Linked DNA regions of Homo sapiens: all the other regions are linked to region 1. The links come from fine-mapping of genetic effects on gene expression. Tissue or cell type: whole blood. Region 1 holds a variant in brackets; each other region holds the start of a gene. Each region is shown on its reference strand, or each on the opposite one. Region 1 overlaps IKZF1 (IKAROS family zinc finger 1). Region 2 holds the start of SHARPIN (SHANK associated RH domain interactor). Region 3 holds the start of LYL1 (LYL1 basic helix-loop-helix family member). Region 4 holds the start of BCL2L1 (BCL2 like 1).

The links. PIP is the estimated chance that this variant, and not a neighbour inherited with it, causes the effect. A credible set is the group of variants that fine-mapping cannot tell apart.
Region 2: SHARPIN starts here. The variant in region 1 is fine-mapped to the expression of SHARPIN in whole blood (TOPMed, PIP 0.92).
Region 3: it holds the start of LYL1, and the variant in region 1 is the best candidate, but not a certain one, in a credible set for the expression of LYL1 in whole blood (TOPMed, PIP 0.88).
Region 4: it holds the start of BCL2L1, and the variant in region 1 is the best candidate, but not a certain one, in a credible set for the expression of BCL2L1 in whole blood (TOPMed, PIP 0.81).

Annotation. Positions count from the first base shown.
Region 1 is chr7:50,358,100-50,362,099 of GRCh38, forward strand. All of the region lies in intron 3 of IKZF1 (IKAROS family zinc finger 1), which reads left to right. Among named protein-coding and RNA genes, the nearest start is that of IKZF1, 55 kb to the left of the region's middle. RefSeq lists enhancers at 2,152-2,671, 2,672-3,189. The variant G/A (reference allele first, on the strand shown) is at 2,185.
Region 2 is chr8:144,101,965-144,105,964 of GRCh38, forward strand. SHARPIN (SHANK associated RH domain interactor) reads right to left here and starts at 1,809. Exons shown (of 9, transcript NM_030974.4): 1 at 1,589-1,809; 2 at 1,087-1,261. The coding sequence starts at 1,789. It overlaps MAF1 (MAF1 negative regulator of RNA polymerase III), which reads left to right and starts at 2,497. Exons shown (of 8, transcript NM_032272.5): 1 at 2,497-2,894; 2 at 3,676-3,802; 3 at 3,905-4,000. The coding sequence starts at 3,720. RefSeq lists silencers at 1,551-1,650, 1,661-1,940, 2,701-2,940 and enhancers at 2,001-2,050, 2,802-3,096.
Region 3 is chr19:13,100,125-13,105,218 of GRCh38, forward strand. It overlaps LYL1 (LYL1 basic helix-loop-helix family member), which reads right to left and starts at 2,734. Exons shown (of 4, transcript NM_005583.5): 1 at 2,407-2,734; 2 at 713-1,071; 3 at 533-624. The coding sequence starts at 1,047. LOC105372282 (a long non-coding RNA gene) reads left to right here and starts at 4,292. Exons shown (of 2, transcript XR_001753871.2): 1 at 4,292-4,520; 2 at 4,684-4,782. TRMT1 (tRNA methyltransferase 1) reads right to left here. Exons shown (of 17, transcript NM_001136035.4): 17 at 4,783-4,957. The coding sequence ends at 4,811. RefSeq lists enhancers at 1-114, 174-233, 4,197-4,276, 4,211-4,505, 4,417-4,476, cis regulatory regions at 2,487-3,407, 4,207-4,787 and a silencer at 2,507-3,116.
Region 4 is chr20:31,720,722-31,725,688 of GRCh38, forward strand. BCL2L1 (BCL2 like 1) reads right to left here and starts at 2,147. Exons shown (of 3, transcript NM_138578.3): 1 at 1,897-2,147; 2 at 934-1,627. The coding sequence starts at 1,497. RefSeq lists enhancers at 5-124, 1,766-2,521, 2,456-2,515, 2,522-3,276, 3,046-3,245 and silencers at 1,886-2,005, 2,056-2,165, 2,065-2,359, 2,566-3,015.

The DNA.
Region 1 (4,000 bases):
AGTTGTTCGATTTGTAAATGGGAAGAGTGTGTGACCCAAATTAGTCGTTTCCAGATATTTCCTGGTAAATGGTTGTTGAATCATAAAACTAGAAAGATGGGAAAGAAAGGGAGGAACCCCCCTTACTTCGAAGAAGTGTTGTTGATGTGAAGGACAGGACTTTTTGAGACACTCTCATCCTAAGAAACAGCTGATATCTACTAGGAAAAAACATGACATTTGAAGTTTCTTCCTAAGAGATGTGAGGTTTTGACAGAAGTGCCAGGAAGCCAGAGGTGTGTGAGTAGTGGGCCAATCTCGCGTGAAGGCTGTGGGACGGGGCAGGAGAGGGGCAGCCAGCATTTCCTGAGCGCCAGCTAATGGCGGGGACCTGGCACCTTTGCTCTGTGACTCTCCAGCTGTATGGTGACATGAGGCTGGCGTTTTCTTTGGTTTCATACGTGAGGAAGCTGAGGCTTGGTGATGTCCTGTGCATGGCTCGGACTCCAGAGCTACTCAGAGGCAGAGGCCGTCTGTAAACACCTTCAGGTGGTTGGAGGCAGGGTGCTGCAGCCAATGCTGATCACTCACAAGCCAAGGCTTTATTGTAAGGGCTAAATAAAATAACATATGCCTAGCATTTATACAGCACGGGGCTTTTTAGGAAATAGTGAGACGACCATGGAGAGGTGGAGGAAGAGAGAAGGGAAAGAAGAAAAAGAAAAAAAAAGCCTTAAAGAGTTTCTTAAGAGAACTATATATTACAAAGTCCTTGGAGTTTTTTTTCCCTGGTTAGACATAAGTTTACATGAAACGTTAAACGGCTTAAAGTAGCCACATCTCCTTCCTTATGTCTTCTCACAGCCACTTGTGAGTTTCTTATCAAGATACAGAATTATGGCCAAGTGCGGTAGCTCACACGTGTAATCCCAGCACTTTGAGAGACTGAGGTGGAAGGATCATGTGTGCTCAGGAGTTTCAGACCAACCTAGGCAATATGGTAAAACCCTGTCTCTACAAAAAAATACAAAAATTAGCTGGGCATGGTGGCATATTCCAATAGTTCCAGGCACTCGGGAGGCTGAGACAGGAGGATTGCTTGAGCCCAAGAGGTCAAGACTGCAGTGAGCTGTGATCGAGCCACTGCACTACAGCCTGGGCCACAGAGCAAGATCCTGTCTCAAAAAATAAAATAAAATAAAATAAATTCTGCAACAAGTCACAATTCCTTGCTCAGAAATCTCTACAGGTGTGCTTCTTTGTTAAGAAATGGAGGAAACATGAATTTCATCCTGACTTCTGAGTCTTGTAGAGACCAGATCTGACTCCTGCAGCCTTCTGCCCACAGAGCTGGCAGGCGGGGGAATGTGCGCAGAGTGAGGAGGAGCTGATCTGACATTCCGAACAGTGGAGACTGCTGCCTATTTGGCCGCACCACTGTCCTTCTGCATGGAAAAGTCACAGTAAATAATGGACTCTCTACCTGTGAGTCGATTTTACTGAGCTGCCTTTTTAAATATATGTGTAGAAAGGGCGATCTCTGTGTGTCATTTGCACATGTACATACACATGTACACACGTGCACACGTGGTCACTCATGTACACATGTGTGTGCACCAGTGCACCAGACCAGATGCACCCACCCAATTCCACGCTCCTCAGCCCCTTGCTTTCCTCTGCAGACAGCCAGTTCAGCTACAGTTATGCCAGATTGCCTGCACTCTGATCTTTACCATCACCAGACTCTCAGCTTGAGCTCATGCCTGAGAAATCCACTTTCTGGGAGGAAGGCAGAAGAAACTGCCAAGGCAGGACTGAAGACTTGACCTCCACCTGTAGTGGGGTCAGGTCACCAGAGGCTGGCTGACTCCCCAGGATTTCTCAGCAGAGTATTACACAAATACCCCTTCCTTAAAGATTAGCAACCACTTAAAGACACAAAGTGTGCAGGACTGTACCCATGGCCGAGAGCGGCGGGATTAAGAGGGCAACTGAGTTGTTCTTCCCATCCCTCCTCCTCTGTGCTGAGTCACCTTCTGCTTGGAATTCTGACAGGGACCCGTTGGGCTTCTGGAAGGGAGGGACAGCAGAGGATCCACCCTCTGTGTGTCCTGGGGGAGATTACTTATCTCTGGCCTCCCTGAAGCAGGGCCTGGGCTTCTGGAATCTTTGAGGCTGACACCCTGCCAGCCCTGGGGATGAGAG[G/A]GAATGGCCGTGTCTGTCTGCAGAGCCTGAGGAGGAGCTGAGCACAGCCTCCAGAGTTCTCTTCAGTTGATCGCTTAGGTGGACAAAGGCCACAGAAATGGATTTAAACTCCTCAGCCCTTTCTTTGCATGTTTGTTCTCATTTGAAGTCAGAAGTGATATGTCCTACACCTCAAGAACGTGTGAAATGCACATACAATAACCCCATTTCAGGAAGCCAAGTCCAGCTTAACAGTCAAAACATTTCCTTCAGTCTTTAGTCCTTCACTTTGCCGAACTCCCTTTTACACCGGCAGCAACAGTTTAACCTGTTGCTTCTGTAAGAGTGTGCTACTGGGAAAACCACATCTAAAACACGTGTGCAGTTACATCAGCTAGAGCACATGCTAAACAGTTGATCAAAGGCTCTTGCCTTGTGGCCCACGCTGCAGACACTCTGACGACTGCCGAGCTCCGCAGCCCCATGTCGTCCCTTCCGCACTGCCTGCTGTGCCTCTCCTCTCCATGTGGCAGGGAACACAGCCAGTCATCACCATGTGGCTCTGCCCGGCGCTGCCCCAGCATGTCCTGACAGGGCCTAGATATGGAAAGGTGGCTCTCCATGCACACACCCCAAGCCCCTCCTGCCCGCCGTGTGACCCACACTCTTATGGGCAGCCCAGTTATTTTGTAGCATTTCCCTTCCTTATCATTTTGGCCCAGTGATCCAGCACAAATCTCCCTTATTAGAATAAAATTTGGAATGACAAAATTAAATTTCATTTTTCACTTATATTGAGGACCTCACACTCTTCACCCCTGCCACGATCCCTGACAAGAGCCTTCCTATCTAATCATTGTTCCTCCAGCCCTCTTAGTTTTCTTCAGCCTTTCTTGATTGCCTGAATGTCCCTTTCCCTTCTCCTTTTAAAGCATGAACCAAGCTTTCTTACCCCGTTCTCATTATCATTTTTGCATTTTCTTCTTTGCATATGATTCTCCTTAAATTATAAAACTTGGGGGTAATTTCTAGAGGTGCCATCATAGTGCTTCTGTCTACTCAGTGTCTTTAGAATCAGCAAATATCATTTTTACAAAAAAGTAGTATTTCTTCCAAAAAAGAGTAAGCAAGAAGGTTACAACACTGGGAAAATATCCCTAAGCCTGTTCTTCAACCTGTTGAATGTTTTCCCCTAAATTGTTATATGGAGATCCTGGACCCGGAAGTTGGCTGACATGAAACAGGCCTAGCAGGGCAGCTGAGGAAATGCTCCAACCTCAGGATCCAGGAAGATTGCACATGGCACCAAAACAATCATTTAAAAGCTAATCCTGGCCAGGCACAGTGGCTCACGCCTGTAATCCCAGCACTTTGGGAGGCCGAGGTGGGCTGATCACAAGGTCAAGAGATCGAGACCATCCTGACCAACATGGTGAAACCCCATCTCTACCAAAAGTACAAATATTAGCTGGGCATGGTGGTGCGCGCCTGTAGTCCCAGCTACCCGGGAGGCTGAGGCAGGAGAATCACTTGAACCCGGGAGGAGGAGGTTGCAGTGAGCCAAGATCATGCCACTGCACTCCAGCCTGGTGACAGAGCAAGACTCCATCTCAAAAAAGAAAAAAAAAGCTAATCCCATAAAAGAACCATCATTTTGAACCTGCTGTTTCCTTTCTTGTACTCTTTAGAAGTACCCATTTCTCCCTTTCTAAGCCATAGGTGTATTAATTGGAGCTTTTTCTATCTTAATTAGTTCACTGTGAACAATTAAAATTGTGTTAATAAAACAAAAACAAAAATAGGACTGGTGCCTAGTTGTACTACATGAAGAGAGAAA
Region 2 (4,000 bases), not on the chromosome of region 1:
CTACCCCTCTGGCAGCTCTGCTTATCTCGTTTGTGGGCTGCCCTCTATCTGGGAGCCCCATACTACCTAGTCCTTCATGTTTCTCAGTCTCAACTGCTAACTCTTCCATTTAAGCAGCCATGTGAGCCAGGGGCAGTGGCTCATGCCAATAACAGCTACTTAGGCTGAAGCAGGAGGATCACCGTAGACCAGGAGTTCAAGGCTCCAGTGAGTTAGGGTCACGCTACTGCACTCCAGTCTGGGTGAGAGAGGGAGTCTTTGTCTGCAAAAAACCTCCCAAGCAGCCATGAAACTCAGCTAATTCCATCTTCTTTTTTTTTTTTTTTTGAGATGGAGTCTTGCTCTGTCACCCAGGCTGGAGTGCAGTGGCAAGATCTCAGCTCACTGCAACCTCTGCCTCCGGGTTCAAGTGATTCTCCTGCCTCAGCCTCCCCAAGTAGCTGGGACTACAGGCACACGCCACCACGCCTGGCTAATTTTTGTATTTTTAGTAGAGACAGGGTTTCACCTTGCTGACCAGGCTGGTCTCAAACTCCTGACATCAGGTGATCACCCACCTCGGCCTCCCAAAGTGCTGGAATTACAGGCGTGAGCCACCCCACCCGGCCACTAATTCCATCTTCTAAGCATCTCTAGAAACATCCTTCTCCCCAACCCTATCTGCACCAACCCTTGCCACTGCAGAACTCTGTCTTAAGCAGGAGGTATCTGAGTCTGTCACTCTCCCACTCCTGTCACTCTCCTGCTGCTCTTGGGATGATGTCTTCTCACACAGGTCCTGACCCTGCCTGCTCTGCCTCTTCATGCTTGCCTCTCATCCTTCCTGAGGGTTAAGGAAGTGCAGGCTGAGGTTCCAGGGCTTCCTGGTGGAGGCTGCAACTTGTGCTGGCTGGGGCCTCAGATGGTGTAGGAGACTGACTCCAGCAGCCACTCCAAGTACTCCAAGCTACTCCAGGCTCCACCTACTCCCTCCTGGAAGCCTTCCCAGACATCCAGCAGTGGGGAAGGTGGATCCAACTTCCCCAACCAGGACTGGGGGGCCAAGGCTATTCCAAATTGTAATTGTATCCATTACAGGGCACTGACCATTCTGTCCTTCCACGGTGGCACCTCGGACTAGGACTGCCCACCGCTGAGCTTCCTGAGGGTTGAGGAAGTGCAGGCTGAGGGTTCCAGGCCCTCCTGGTGGAGGCTGTAGCTCGTGCTGGGTGGGGCCTCGGATGGTGTAGGAAACTGACTCCAGGGGCCACTCCAAATTAACCTGAGAAGAGGGAGAGTCCAGGCTCAGGGCGTCCCCCCGCCCTACATCGCACGAGGAGCAAAGAAATACAAGGTAACATTTATAGACCATTTACACGGTCCTAAGCCCTGTACGCCTATCATCAAATCCTCACAATAGCCCTGTAAAGTAGGTCCAGGTAGGTCCCAGTAGGTCCGAGCGTCACCCCCATTTCACGGACGAGAAAACAGAAGCAAAGAAACATAACTGCTTAAGGGCACCCAGGTGGCAAGCGGAGGGGCCTAACTTTGGGCTCCGTGCCCTGCCCGGGCCAAGAGGACTGACCGCGCGCCCTCCGCCCCCACTCACCGCCCCAGGTCCCGCGCCCAGCAGCTCCAGCCGGAAGCGCCCAGGCCGCTCAGGGTCCGCGCTCAGCTGCAGCCTCCGCAGCTGTGCCTCGGCGTCTGGCCCGGCGCCCAGCGGCCTCACCGCGGCGTGCACAGCCAAGAGCACTGCGGCGGAGCCCAAGTCCGAGGCCGCCGCCGCCGCCCCGCCCGCTGGCGGCGCCATCTCCGGTCCGGCCGGGTCCCACCCCTCCGAGCGCGCTTCCGTGGGATCGGGCCGCTGAGCCCCCTCCGCCGGTCGGAAACACGGGCCGCGAACCTGGGGTTCCGGGCGCGCCCAGAGCGTCGGGCCTGGGACGGCGCCGAGTGGTGCACTCTGGCCAAGCCTGCCCCGCTGGCTTTGCCCACAAATGGACACGGCCCGAGGGTCTCCGGACACCGGCTGGGCGAGGCTGGCGGCGTGTACGAGGCTGGGGCAGGGCGGCCGAGGCGCTCACGTTAGAGCTGGTCTTTGGGGGCGAAGGGTCAGGGGGCGAAGCACCGGCCACAACTGAAGGCGGACGCGGCCTCTTCGCCCCAGGGGCTCGGCGGACGTAGATGCATCCAGCGTGCGACTATCCCAGCGCCTAACGGCAGCTGGACTTCGCTCCCGGGACCTCCAATGGGCTGCCACCTTCGCCCGCAGACCCCAGCCCCCGCCACGCCCACACGTCGCACTAGGTTGGCCCGCGCCTCACTGGTTACGGGGTCGACCCCCCTAGGGGGCGGAGCTAGAGAGGCCACGGCCAATGAACGCCGGGGGTAAGCGGGTTAGTACGACGAGAAGAGTGACAGACAGGCTCCATAACCAGTAGACGTAGAAGGCAGAACTGAGTGGCGGGTACGGCACCCGATGGCTATTCGAGCTCTCGATCTCGGAGACTGGAGCGGGCCATTCAGAGGCGCGGGGCCGGGCCCGGCGGACGCTTGTTGTTGTCCGGCCGGGGGAGGCGGAGGTCGCTCGCTCGCTCGCTCGGCTCGCTGACTCGCCGGAGCGCTCTGTGGCGGTCGGCGGCAGGTCGGTCGCGAGAGCGGGCTCTGTGGAAGGGGGCGAGGCTATGTCGCGGTGGCAGCCCGGATGGGCCGGCAGGGCCGGGAGTAACGGGACGTCGCCGCGGAGCTTCTTCCCCCGGATACAGTGCGGCCCGAGCGGAGGCCGCGGCGCCGCCCTCCGATCTTGAAGAGCCCGCGCTGCGCGGAGCCCGCCCCCGCCTGCGCACCGGCACCGACGCGGAGCGACCCAGCCCAGCCAGACCCGGCCCGGCGCGGCCTGATCTAACCCAGCCAGGCAGGTGGGTGTCCGCCCTGCGTCCCGCGCCGTCTGCGTACCCGGAACCACAGCCCCCAGCAGGCCTCGCGCGGCGCGCTGCCTCCTGGGATTTGTAGTTCCACCGCGGCTTGGCTGGTGCCCGACGTGGCCCAGGCGGGCGCTGCCTGGTGACTGCAGCGCCCCAGCGGGGCCGAGGGACCGCCCTCCTAGGCGTCTGGAGAAACTAGGCAATTTTTCCGGGTAGAGTGGAGGAACCTGTAGTTTTCCTCTCCCCGGGCCAGAAAGTAGCCAAAACGAAAGAGCGCCCGCCCAGGTGACCGCAGGGCCCGGAGTCCCAGGTGTCCTGGTTCCTAACCGGGATGCAGCCTCTTACCTTGGCTGAGGAGCCCAGCCAGCCTGAGGGAGACTGCAGGAGTCACGTCCCGTTGCGGACTCAAGAGTTACCCCCATGGTGGCTGGAGCTCTTTTGGAGTGGGCGTGGAGATGGGGAATGGGAATGTTGAGCAACAATCTCAGCCAGCAGCCCCAGGGTGAGCAGGGTCCCCGGTGGTCTAGTCTAGTCCCAGAACTCGCGTGTTCTGCAGGGGGTATGGCTGACCTGGAGCCTGGACTTACCACCCTCAGGTAAAACAGGATCTCTGTCACCTCTCCTGGCCGGGCAGAGAGGGGAGCTCCTGATGTGCAGCCTGGACAGAGGCCAGACTCAGCTTGTTCCTAGCGGCTCCACTTAGTGGGTAGGAGGGCTGAAGGCAGGGCCCCAAGGGGCCAGATAGATACCCATGGTCTGGTCTCTCACTCCCCAGGCAATACTAGCCCCTCTGGAGCACGGAGCTCCTTCCCCAAAGACATGAAGCTATTGGAGAACTCGAGCTTTGAAGCCATCAACTCACAGCTGACTGTGGAGACTGGAGATGCCCACATCATTGGCAGGTGAGGCAGGCTGGGGGGGCTGGCATCTCGGAGGTCACACTGCCGCGCCCTTCAGTGGAACCTGGGGGAAGCATGCTTCATGGTTCTCTCTGCATCCTATAGGATTGAGAGCTACTCATGTAAGATGGCAGGAGACGACAAACACATGTTCAAGCAGTTCTGCCAGGAGGGCCAGCCCCACGTGCTGGAGGCACTTTC
Region 3 (5,094 bases), not on the chromosome of region 1:
TCCTGTGTCTTGTATGACTGTGTGAGACTCTTGTTATGTCTCATGGCTGTGGTTATGTGTGATGTTGCCATGTGGCTGTTTCACGAGTGGCTGTGGTTGTGTGGCTGACTCTTGTGTGGCCGTGGTCCTAAGTGGCTGTGGTCCTGTGGCTGTCTTGTGTGTGGTTGTGGTCCTGTGGCTGTCTCTTGCATGGCTGTGGTCTTGTGGCTGTCTTGCGTGGCTGCACATTCCAGTGGAGCTGTCATTTTGTGGCTCCCATGCCCTGGTGTGGCATGCTCTGTTTTGCCGTGACTGCGGCTACATGGCTTGGCCTGTTGGGTGGCGGTGGTTGTGTGGGGCTGGCTATGGGACTGCGATTTTGCACATGGGTAGAACCTATGTGGGCTGTTCTCTGTGTGTGCTGGAAGCACGTCTCCCCGAGGTGGAGTAGAGGACAGACATGAGCCCCACACAGAGACGGCCAGGCCTTCTGTGCACCCACAAGTGCACATACAGGCATACAAACCCACAAGGCACACAAACCCACACTCACCCTCAGCCAGGTCCAGCTCACAGTGGCTTGGTCTCCGCTTCAACCGGCTGCTAGGGAAGATGCTAAAAGGTCCTGCTGGCCCAATGTAGACACTGTAAGGGGTCGTGGGTCACTAATGCCTTGTGGGCAAGGACCCTGGCCCCCAATCCCCACTGCCCCCCACCCCAGATCCCCACTGACCTGTTGAGGAAGGGGTGAGGGTGGTAGTGCAGGGCCAAAGTGGGCGGGGCAGTTCCCAGGGTGGAGAGTTGCAGCAGCGGGGGCCGCAGAGTGCCCAGCTCTGTGGTGGGCATGGCTACCCCTGGGGGCCTGCTGTGGCCCAGGCTGATCACTGGTACACCAGGTGGCAGCCTGGGGGGCGAGGAGCCTCCTCGGTGGCCCACCTCCTCCACCTGCGGGGGCCCAGGCGAGGCAGGCTTAGGGGGTGGGGCAGGCGCTGGGCTGGGGGCACACACCATCTCTGCCTTCTCAGTCATGGTGGGGCCCACCTCTGCCTGTGCCTGAGGCGGGCACATGGACCCCGACGTGGGGGTACTCACCTGTGGGAAAGAAGGCAGCCAGTGGGGAGGAGGACTAGGTGCCCCGCTCCCACCTGCTTAGCTCAAGAAACCCCTCAAATGGGAAGGAGGGAGGGGGAGGGGGAAAGGAGGAGGAGAGAAGTTTCAGTAGGCAAAGGCAGATGGCGGGGGCAGGCCCAGAAACTTCCAGGACACGGGAGGGGGGTCCTACGTTAGAGTAGGAGGCGCCCCCCAGGTGCTAGGCAGCGCACTGTCCCTGAGCTCTTTGTGACCCAGGAGGGGCGCTGTTGCCCAGCCTCTGAGCAAATATTCCTTCTTCCAGAATTCCCTCACCTCTGCAGCCTGGAGAGGGAACAAGACAGGGAGCCCCTAACTGATCCTGGGATCCCCAGAAACCCCAAGATTAACCCTGTTATCCTCAGATCTAAAGATCCAACCCAGAGACTCCTCATTAACTCATTGATGCCATGTGAGCTTGGAATCCCTCCAAGATGGACTCTGACCCTTCACGGAAGGCCCCCAGCCCCCACCCAGGCTGACCCTCTGCACCTCAAGAATGACCCTGCGGTTCTTCCCATTGCTGTCCCTGAAAGTGCTCCATAATTGCTTGAGTGACCCCCACTCCCACTGCAAACATCCCCCATAGCAACCCTGTGACCCCACTACTGACACTATGACCTCAAATGCTGACCCTAGACCCCCAAACACTGACCCCACTGCCCAGTCCAGTCCAGTCATGCCCCAACCCTCCCTCTGGCTTGGAAGCCCCCATCCTCATCAGCATCCACGCTTTTTAAAATTTGTTTATTTTTTTAGAGACAGGGTCTCCCTCTGTTGTCCAGGCTGGAGTGCAGTGGTGCAATCATAGTGCACTGCAGCCTCAAATTCCTGGGCTCGAGCCATCCTCCTGTCTCAGCCTCCTGAGTAGCTGAGAGTACAGGCATGTGCCACCATGCCCGGCTAATTTAAAAAAAAAAATTTTTTTTGTAGAGGCAGGTTCTCACTCTGTTGTCCAGGGTGGTCTGGAACTCCTGGGCTCAAGTGATCCTCCTGCCTCAGCCTCCCAAAGTGCTGGGATTACAGGCATGCACCACAATGCCCCGCGATCATCCACAGTTTTGCATACTGTTTTGACATCCCTGTTTGCTCTTGGTTCCAGAGTCCAGGATGTCCCAGCAAGGTGTGAGACTGTTGGCCCCTCTGCCCTGTCTTCCTCAGCTAGGCCCTGGGGAAGCAGGCCTGGCCCCTCACTAGTGGGTCCCTGCTGGTGAATGAATGAATGAAGGAATGAACAAAGGAATGCAGGCTGGGTCCCAGGCCCGGGATCCTCCACCTTTAGGCCCGCTCCCCTCTTACCCCAGCACTGTTCTTGCAGCCTGGTGAGTGCCCTGGCTCTGTCCCGTCAGGGCTGGCAGTCTGGGCCAGGGTGTGGTTTCCAGCGTCAGGCCAGGCTCTGCTGTCTCGCGAGGGTCCGGCCTCAATGCTCCAGGCCCCGGCGTTGGGCCGCGCCTCCTCGTGGGCCTCGGAAGGCCAGGATAGCCGAGGTCTCCGCGTAGGTCCCCCCCAGGGAAAGTGAGCGGCTCCCGGGCCGGCCCGCCTTCTCCCCGCCCCCGGCGGCCCGGTTTCCTCCCTCTCACCCCTGGCGGCGCAGCGGCCGGAGGATGCTGGCCCAGTGCAGATAAGGGCCAGGCTGCCTGGCCGCGCCTGATAAGGAGCCTGGCTGACCCCGGAGGAAACCAGCGGGCGGGGACCTAGCAGCGCGGGCCTCCCGGCCCCGCCCCCAGCCGGCGCTGGCAGGACTCGGTCCGCCACCCCTCAGGGCTTCGCCTTCCGCTCCCCCAGCCACTGTAGGGACCCCGGGCCTCTGGGGACCCGGGCCCCAGGGCAGCCGGGGAGGGAGGTGCCTGGATGCACGCAGGGGGTAAACTGAGGCAGGGAAGCTGCCTCCTCTTATGTCCGAGTCTGCCCTTTGGCTTTGCACACTCCCTGCCCGAATGTCTGTGCTGATGGGGGTGAGGGAGAGCCCTTTCCGGCCCGTTGGGGCCGCGTGACCCTGGGCCCCCACCTCCTCTCCTCACCCAGCCTGGTTCCTCTTTTTACAGAGGCCCTTCCCTCCTCTCCACCACCCCTACCCGGGAGTGGGGCACCCAAAGGGGAACAGTTCTAACAGTCTGGCCTTGGGTGTCCAGCCTGGGCAGGTGTCCCAAGCCCTCAGCACAGTATCCACACATTTCCAAGCCCAGGAGGGTGAGAGGAAGAGCCATGGCTGTCAGGGGTGGGGTGGGGAAGTTGGATTTCCTAGGGTGCTGGGGCTGGTGTGACCTTCCAGTAGATGCCCAACAGGTCCCCACAACTATAGGCCTCTTGGCTACAGGATCACATAACTCCAACTTGGTGGTCCATGGCCCTCACCCCACAGCACCCGGCCCCTTCATGGGGGGCAGTTATCCTGGCTTGGTGGTAAACCTCAAGACCCTACTGGAGCCTCCCACAGGGAGAGGCTCTGGGCACAGCCAGGCAGCAGCAGCTACCAGACTGCCACCCACTTGTGATACTCATGCTTTGGCCCGTCTGTGTATCTGGGCAACTGCAAGAGCCCCCAGGCAGGCAGGCACCCAGCAGCAGGACTACCAACCCCCCCCCCCCCCCGCCCAGGAATGGGGTGGAGCCCAGGACCCCACGATCAACACCTCCATTGCTTTCCTCCAAAGAAGCAGGAACTAAAGTTTTATGCAGTAAAGGCCGGGCTTGGTGGCTCATGCCTGTCATCCCAGCACTTTGGGAGGCTGAGGCTGGCGGATTGCTTGGGCTCATGAGTTTGAGACCAGCCTGGGAAACATGGCAAAACCCCATCTCTACAAAAAATACAAAAATTAGCTGGTTGTGGTGGTGCGTGCCTGTAGTCCCTGCTACTCTGGAGGCTGAGGTGGGAGGATGGCGTGAGCCTGGGAGGTGGAGGCTGCAGTGAGCCAATATTGCGCCACTGCACTCCAGCCTGGGCCACACACCTAGACCTTGCCTCAAAAAAAAAAAAAAAAAAAAAAAAATTAAGCGCTAACTCTGATATCGCTACAAGGAGGGTCCTAAGATTAGCCTCATTACAGATGGGGATGAAGGGAGCAGGAGCCAGAGAGGGGATCCTGCCCCAGGACTCTTCGTTAACGTTACTAAACCCCACTCTGGAGGGCAGGGAGGGGTACAGCTCCCCCTCACTGGGTGTCTGGGCAGCAGCCTGCGAGGTCCCTCTTTGTGTGCACGCCCCCCTCGCCCCGGGCCTCAGGGCAGGAAGCACCTGGTCTGGAGCGGATGCACAGGGCGCCTGGTTCCGGTCCAGCTTCCGCCACTGTGGCCCCTGGAGAGCTGGGCCAAAGAAACCAGGCGGCGAGGAGGCAGCGGCGCGAAGACACGTGGGGGCTACCGGGCAGGAGCGCCCCACTATGCGCAAGCCCGTGGCCTGGAGAGCGCTGAAGGTGGGAGGGGGAAGAGGGGCAGAACCCCCGCGGGAGCGAGCGCACAGCTGCCGCCCCGTGGCCGCTTCGGGAATCGCTGGCTCCGGCTCTGGGGTGGCTCAGTGACCCTCGCTGCAGAGGGGCCGACCACTGTGCAGATGGTCAGCTCCTACCTCCCATACAGACTCAACACTCCAGCCAGGCAGGGGCGAACGATCCCCAGAGGAACAGATCCCAGTCATGCAGCTGTATGGACCAATACACAAACCACAGGCAATCGGGAGAAGGTGACGTGACATCTCTTTATTGGTTCAGTCTATGCCTGGCCCAGCGGCAGCCCCAGGTCCAGGGGGGGTCTGGTTGGAGGTCTCTGGACAGTCAGGGGCAGCATCAGCAGAAACCCTGGGTGTCGGGGGGCTGTGGGAGTAGCAGCACTGGTCCCCGCGTTGACAGGTGCCCTGGTGGGAAGATGGTGGGTGTGAACCCCTGCCCGGAGCTCAGCAGCCCCTGATGGGATCCTTTCCTGGGATGGGAAGCCCACTCCCAAACACTTGCCTGGCCCCAGCTCCCCCAATTCTCTCCCTGTTGCCCAAAG
Region 4 (4,967 bases), not on the chromosome of region 1:
GCCTGTCCAAGGTCACACAGCTAGTTACATGACAGAACTGGAACTTATACCTGCATGTGAAGTCTGTTACTAAATCTCAATGTCCCACAGAGCCCCAAAGACTAGGTTCTTGCTTTGCCAGCAAACAGTGCTTGAAGAGGCCCCTGGGCTCTGGCCGGAAAGTAACAGGCAGAGCAGCTGGAGCTCCCCAACCGACCCCAGGCAATGAGGTGCAAAGTCCCCTGGCTTAATGTGTGACACAGCAAGTGCTCCACAAACAAGGCAACCATGCAGAAAGTCGCACACTTTGGGGGAAATGAACTTAGGGGGCGCAGTGCAAACACAATCTGCACAGCCTACACTGCCCCAAAATCTGACAATTCTCAGCCATTCAACCCAGTGGGAACTCCTGCCTATGGCCATGCCCTAGTCTGAGAGGAGAGTGCCATACACGCAAACTTTGAAATAAAGGGAACTTGATTTGGGGGAGAGAAGCCCAGGATAGGACTGAGACCCCTTGGGGGGAACAGATGGAGAGGTCTGTGGGTCATTGATGCTCATCATCTTCTCCAGGCATTATACTCATCACCCCTTTGTGTGTGAACCATTGTATAAGGTAAGGGAAACACCGAACTAACTTCCTACCCTCACAGGTTTGGGACTTAATGAACACATAGGCTACAGTTTTCTTTGCTGAGAAACTGGAACACAAGTATGGAATAGTGGAGTCATGGGGGTGACCAGGGTGAAAGATGCCTGATCTCTGAAGCACAGGGTCATTTGTATTTCCAAGGAGTTAACCTCTTGTGGTGAAATGAGGCCAGTCAGGTTTCCTCAACTATCAACGTCTCCAACAATCACCCAACACAACAGAAAGAGATACAGAAGAAGGGCTGTTGGGGATCTCTGACCAGAGGCCAAAGAAAAGGGACACACAAGGGGCTTGGTTCTTACCCAGCCGCCGTTCTCCTGGATCCAAGGCTCTAGGTGGTCATTCAGGTAAGTGGCCATCCAAGCTGCGATCCGACTCACCAATACCTGCATCTCCTTGTCTACGCTTTCCACGCACAGTGCCCCGCCGAAGGAGAAAAAGGCCACAATGCGACCCCAGTTTACCCCATCCCGGAAGAGTTCATTCACTACCTGTTCAAAGCTCTGATATGCTGTCCCTGGGGTGATGTGGAGCTGGGATGTCAGGTCACTGAATGCCCGCCGGTACCGCAGTTCAAACTCGTCGCCTGCCTCCCTCAGCGCTTGCTTTACTGCTGCCATGGGGATCACCTCCCGGGCATCCAAACTGCTGCTGTGGCCAGTGGCTCCATTCACCGCGGGGCTGTCTGCCAGGTGCCAGGATGGGTTGCCATTGATGGCACTGGGGGTCTCCATCTCCGATTCAGTCCCTTCTGGGGCCTCAGTCCTGTTCTCTTCCACATCACTAAACTGACTCCAGCTGTATCCTTTCTGGGAAAGCTTGTAGGAGAGAAAGTCAACCACCAGCTCCCGGTTGCTCTGAGACATTTTTATAATAGGGATGGGCTCAACCAGTCCATTGTCCAAAACACCTGCTCACTCACTGAGTCTCGTCTCTGGTTAGTGATTCTCTTCTAAGATCCAAAGCCAAGATAAGATTCTGAAGGGAGAGAAAGAGCTTCAGGAAAAAAAAATAATTAATATGCATGCCATTTACCCTAAAAATTCCATTCCCCCTCCAGGTACCAGAACTGGTTTCTTTGTGGGTCTTACGAAGGTCTGGGTCTAGGTTCCAAGATACTTCACTTAAGTCAAATCGAAAGCACCAGTGGACTCTGAATCTCCCACCAGCCTTTTCTACCCCCGTCTTCTCCGAAATGCCTTCCTCGGAAAGTCACTCCCTGGGCAGTCCCCCCCGCCCCACTCCCGCTCCCCCGCACCACCTACATTCAAATCCGCCTTAGGCAAAGGCAGGCAGGTGCAGCCCCCGGAAGATCTTTTGTATCACAGGTCGGGAGAGGAGGTGGCTGCGGGGATGCCGGTAACTCAGCCGGCCTCGCGGTGGCTGGCAAAAAAACCAGCTCCGGCCGGAGGGATCATGCGACCCGGCAGGCTGGGAGCCCAGAAGGCGACACAGGAATTGCGAAGCTCAGGAACCAGCCCCCTCGCTTGCTTCCTCCTCCATCGCCCGGATCGAGGGCGGCCGCTCCGCAGCCGCGGCCTCCTGCCACCCGGGAGCCCAGCCCCCTCTCTCTTGCACGCCCCTTGGCTCTCCGCCTCCTACTGGGAGCCAGGAGTACTCTCCCGGAGGTGGCTGGTATGGATTTAGTTGGTTTTTGTTTTTCTTTTTTCTATTTAAGCACCAGCCCAGGGTGAGGTGGAGGCGTCCGAAACCCTAAAGGGACTTCTCAATGGGGTTCAAGGTTTCAGTGAGGGACGCAGGGAGGGGGAAACTGCCTCAGATCTGCAATCTGACTTTGGGAAGGCCACCCCCAGGCCTGTCTGTGATGTTGAAGGCCGGAGACCCCCAACAAATGCCGCTGGTTTGCTCTGAATTCCCCAAAGGCCCAGAACGTGGCAGTTGGGGATTGCCGGGTCCTCCATTCCCCGCCCGGACACAATGGCCGCCGGCGCCCTGCACAAAGACTGGGTGAGGGTGAGGCGCTGGGCCTCTCCTCAGGTCAGGAAGAGGGGTCGAGGCCTGCTCGACGGCCCCACAGCTGAGACCACGTTTTCCTGGGGACAGGCCCAAAGTGGCTTTCTGGCGCCCCCGGGAGGGCTCCGGGGCCGGGGGCTGCACCTCTCCGGAGCCCAGGGTGGGCCGGCTGCGGCCTAGCGGCTTCTCGAGCTCACTAGGCCGGGTACCCGCCGAGCCACCGCCCCGTTGCTAGGCAACCGCCCTCCCCCGGGGGCGCCCCCTAGACCTTCCTGAGAGGAGGGGCCTCGCCCCCGGCGGTCCGCCCCAGCGCAGCCAATCAGCGAGCCCAGCCGGCACGGAAGCGGGACGGCGAAGGCTCCTATTGGGCGCAACGGCTGTCACGCACAGGGGAGGCGGCGCTCTCACCTGCGAGCCCCGCGAGCCGTGGGGGGCCACATCCCCCTTCATCGGCCCGGTAGCTTCCAGACGCAAGAGCTCTTCGCGGCCGAGTTCCGCGCCGCGGACCCGGGCCGGCCTACCTGGCTGCCGGCCTACCTGGCTGACTGCTCGCGCCGTCTCTCCCGAACAAGCCGGCCTCAGTTTCCCCTGAAGAGACAGGGGAACTTGCAAGCTCAGTCACTTCCGGTGCCGCGGCAACGCGCGCGAGCCCGAGACGCAAAGGGAGTGCGCGCCTTGAGTGACTGGCATCAGGACCGGGGAGAGATCGCCCCCTCGCGGTAGATCTGGGGAATCGGGAGGCGCAAAAAATCAACATTTATAATCACATTTCCATTTATTCATTCAGTCAGTCAGTCAGTCACTCATCAGTCAATCAGCCTATTTCATCCGTCCGTCAGTTTATATATAGAAGAAGCATCGCCTTGTGGTTAAGCACTTTGTCTGGATTCTAACTCTGCTAGTTAGGCAAGTTTCTCAACTGCTCTGTGCTTCAATGTCCTCAATTGTAAAATGGGTAATAGTACCAACCTCTCTCGTTGAGCTATTGTGATGATTAAGAGAGTTATTAATTGTAAACTCCATAGGACAGGCCGGGCGCGGTGGCTCACGCCCGTAATCCCAGCACTTTGGGAGGCCGAGGCGGGCGGATCACCTGAGGTTAGGAGTTCAAGACCAGCGTGGCCAATGTGGTGAAACCCCGTCTCTACTAAAAATACAAAAAATTAGCTGGGCGTGGTGGCGCATGCCTGTAATCCCAGCTACTCGGGAGGCTGAGGCAGCAGACTCGCTTACAGGAGAATCGTTTACAGGCGTGAGCCACCGCGCCCCGCCAATTTCCTTACACCCTGAACCACACAGTGTGTTATCAAATGTTTTATCCTTGCCAATTAGATGGGTAAAAACCGAAGGCACTTTCATATTTCTTTTTTTATTATGAATGAAGTTGAGCAATTTGTCATATTTTTTAGTCTTTCTTTGGAGGGTGGTGGATCTTGTATTGGTGAATTTTCTTCATATTGTTTACCCCTTTTTCAGGTGGTCTTTCTGTTGAACTCTTTCCTCATTTTTTTTTTTTTTTTTGTTATTGTTGTTTGTTCGAGATGGAGTCTTGCTCTGTTGCACAGGCTGGAGTGCAGTGGTGCTATCTTGGCTCACTGTAAACTCTGCCCGCCAGGTTCAAGTGATTGTCCTGCCTCAGCCTCCCTAGTATCTGGGACTACAGGTACACACCACCACGCCCGGCTAATTTTTGTATTTTTAGTAGAGACAGGGTTTCACCATTTTGGCCAGGCTGGTCTCAAACTGCTGACCTCAGGTGATCCGACTGCCTCAGCCTCCCAAAGTGCTGGGATTACAGACATGAGCCACCGTGCCCGGCCTTTTTTTTTTTTTTTTTTTTGAGACAGGGTATGTCACCCAGCCTGCAGTGCAATGGTGTGATCTCAGCTCACAGCAGCCTCGACCTCCCCATCCCAGGTGATCCTCCCACCTCAGCCTCCCCAGTAGTTGTGAATACAGGCTCGCACCTCCACACCCAGCTAATTTTTGTATTTTTTGTAGAGAATGGAGTTTCCCCATGTTGCCCAGGCTGGTCTCAAACTCCTGGGCTCAAGTGATCTGTCTATGTCGGCCTCCCAAAGTCCTGGAATTACAGGCATTAGCCACCACACCTGGCTCTGATTTACATTTTTTTTGCTGTTTTTCGAGATGGAGTCTTGCTCTGTCACCCAAGCTGGAGTGCGGTGGTGCGATCTCGGCTCACTGCAGCCTTCGCCTCCTGGGTTCAAGTGATTCTCCTGCCTCAGCCTCCTGAGTAGCTGGGATTACAGGCACCTGCCACCACGCCCGGCTAATTTTTGTATTTTTAGTAGAGACGGGGTTTCACCAGTTGGTCAGGCTAGTCTCGAACTCCTGACCTCGT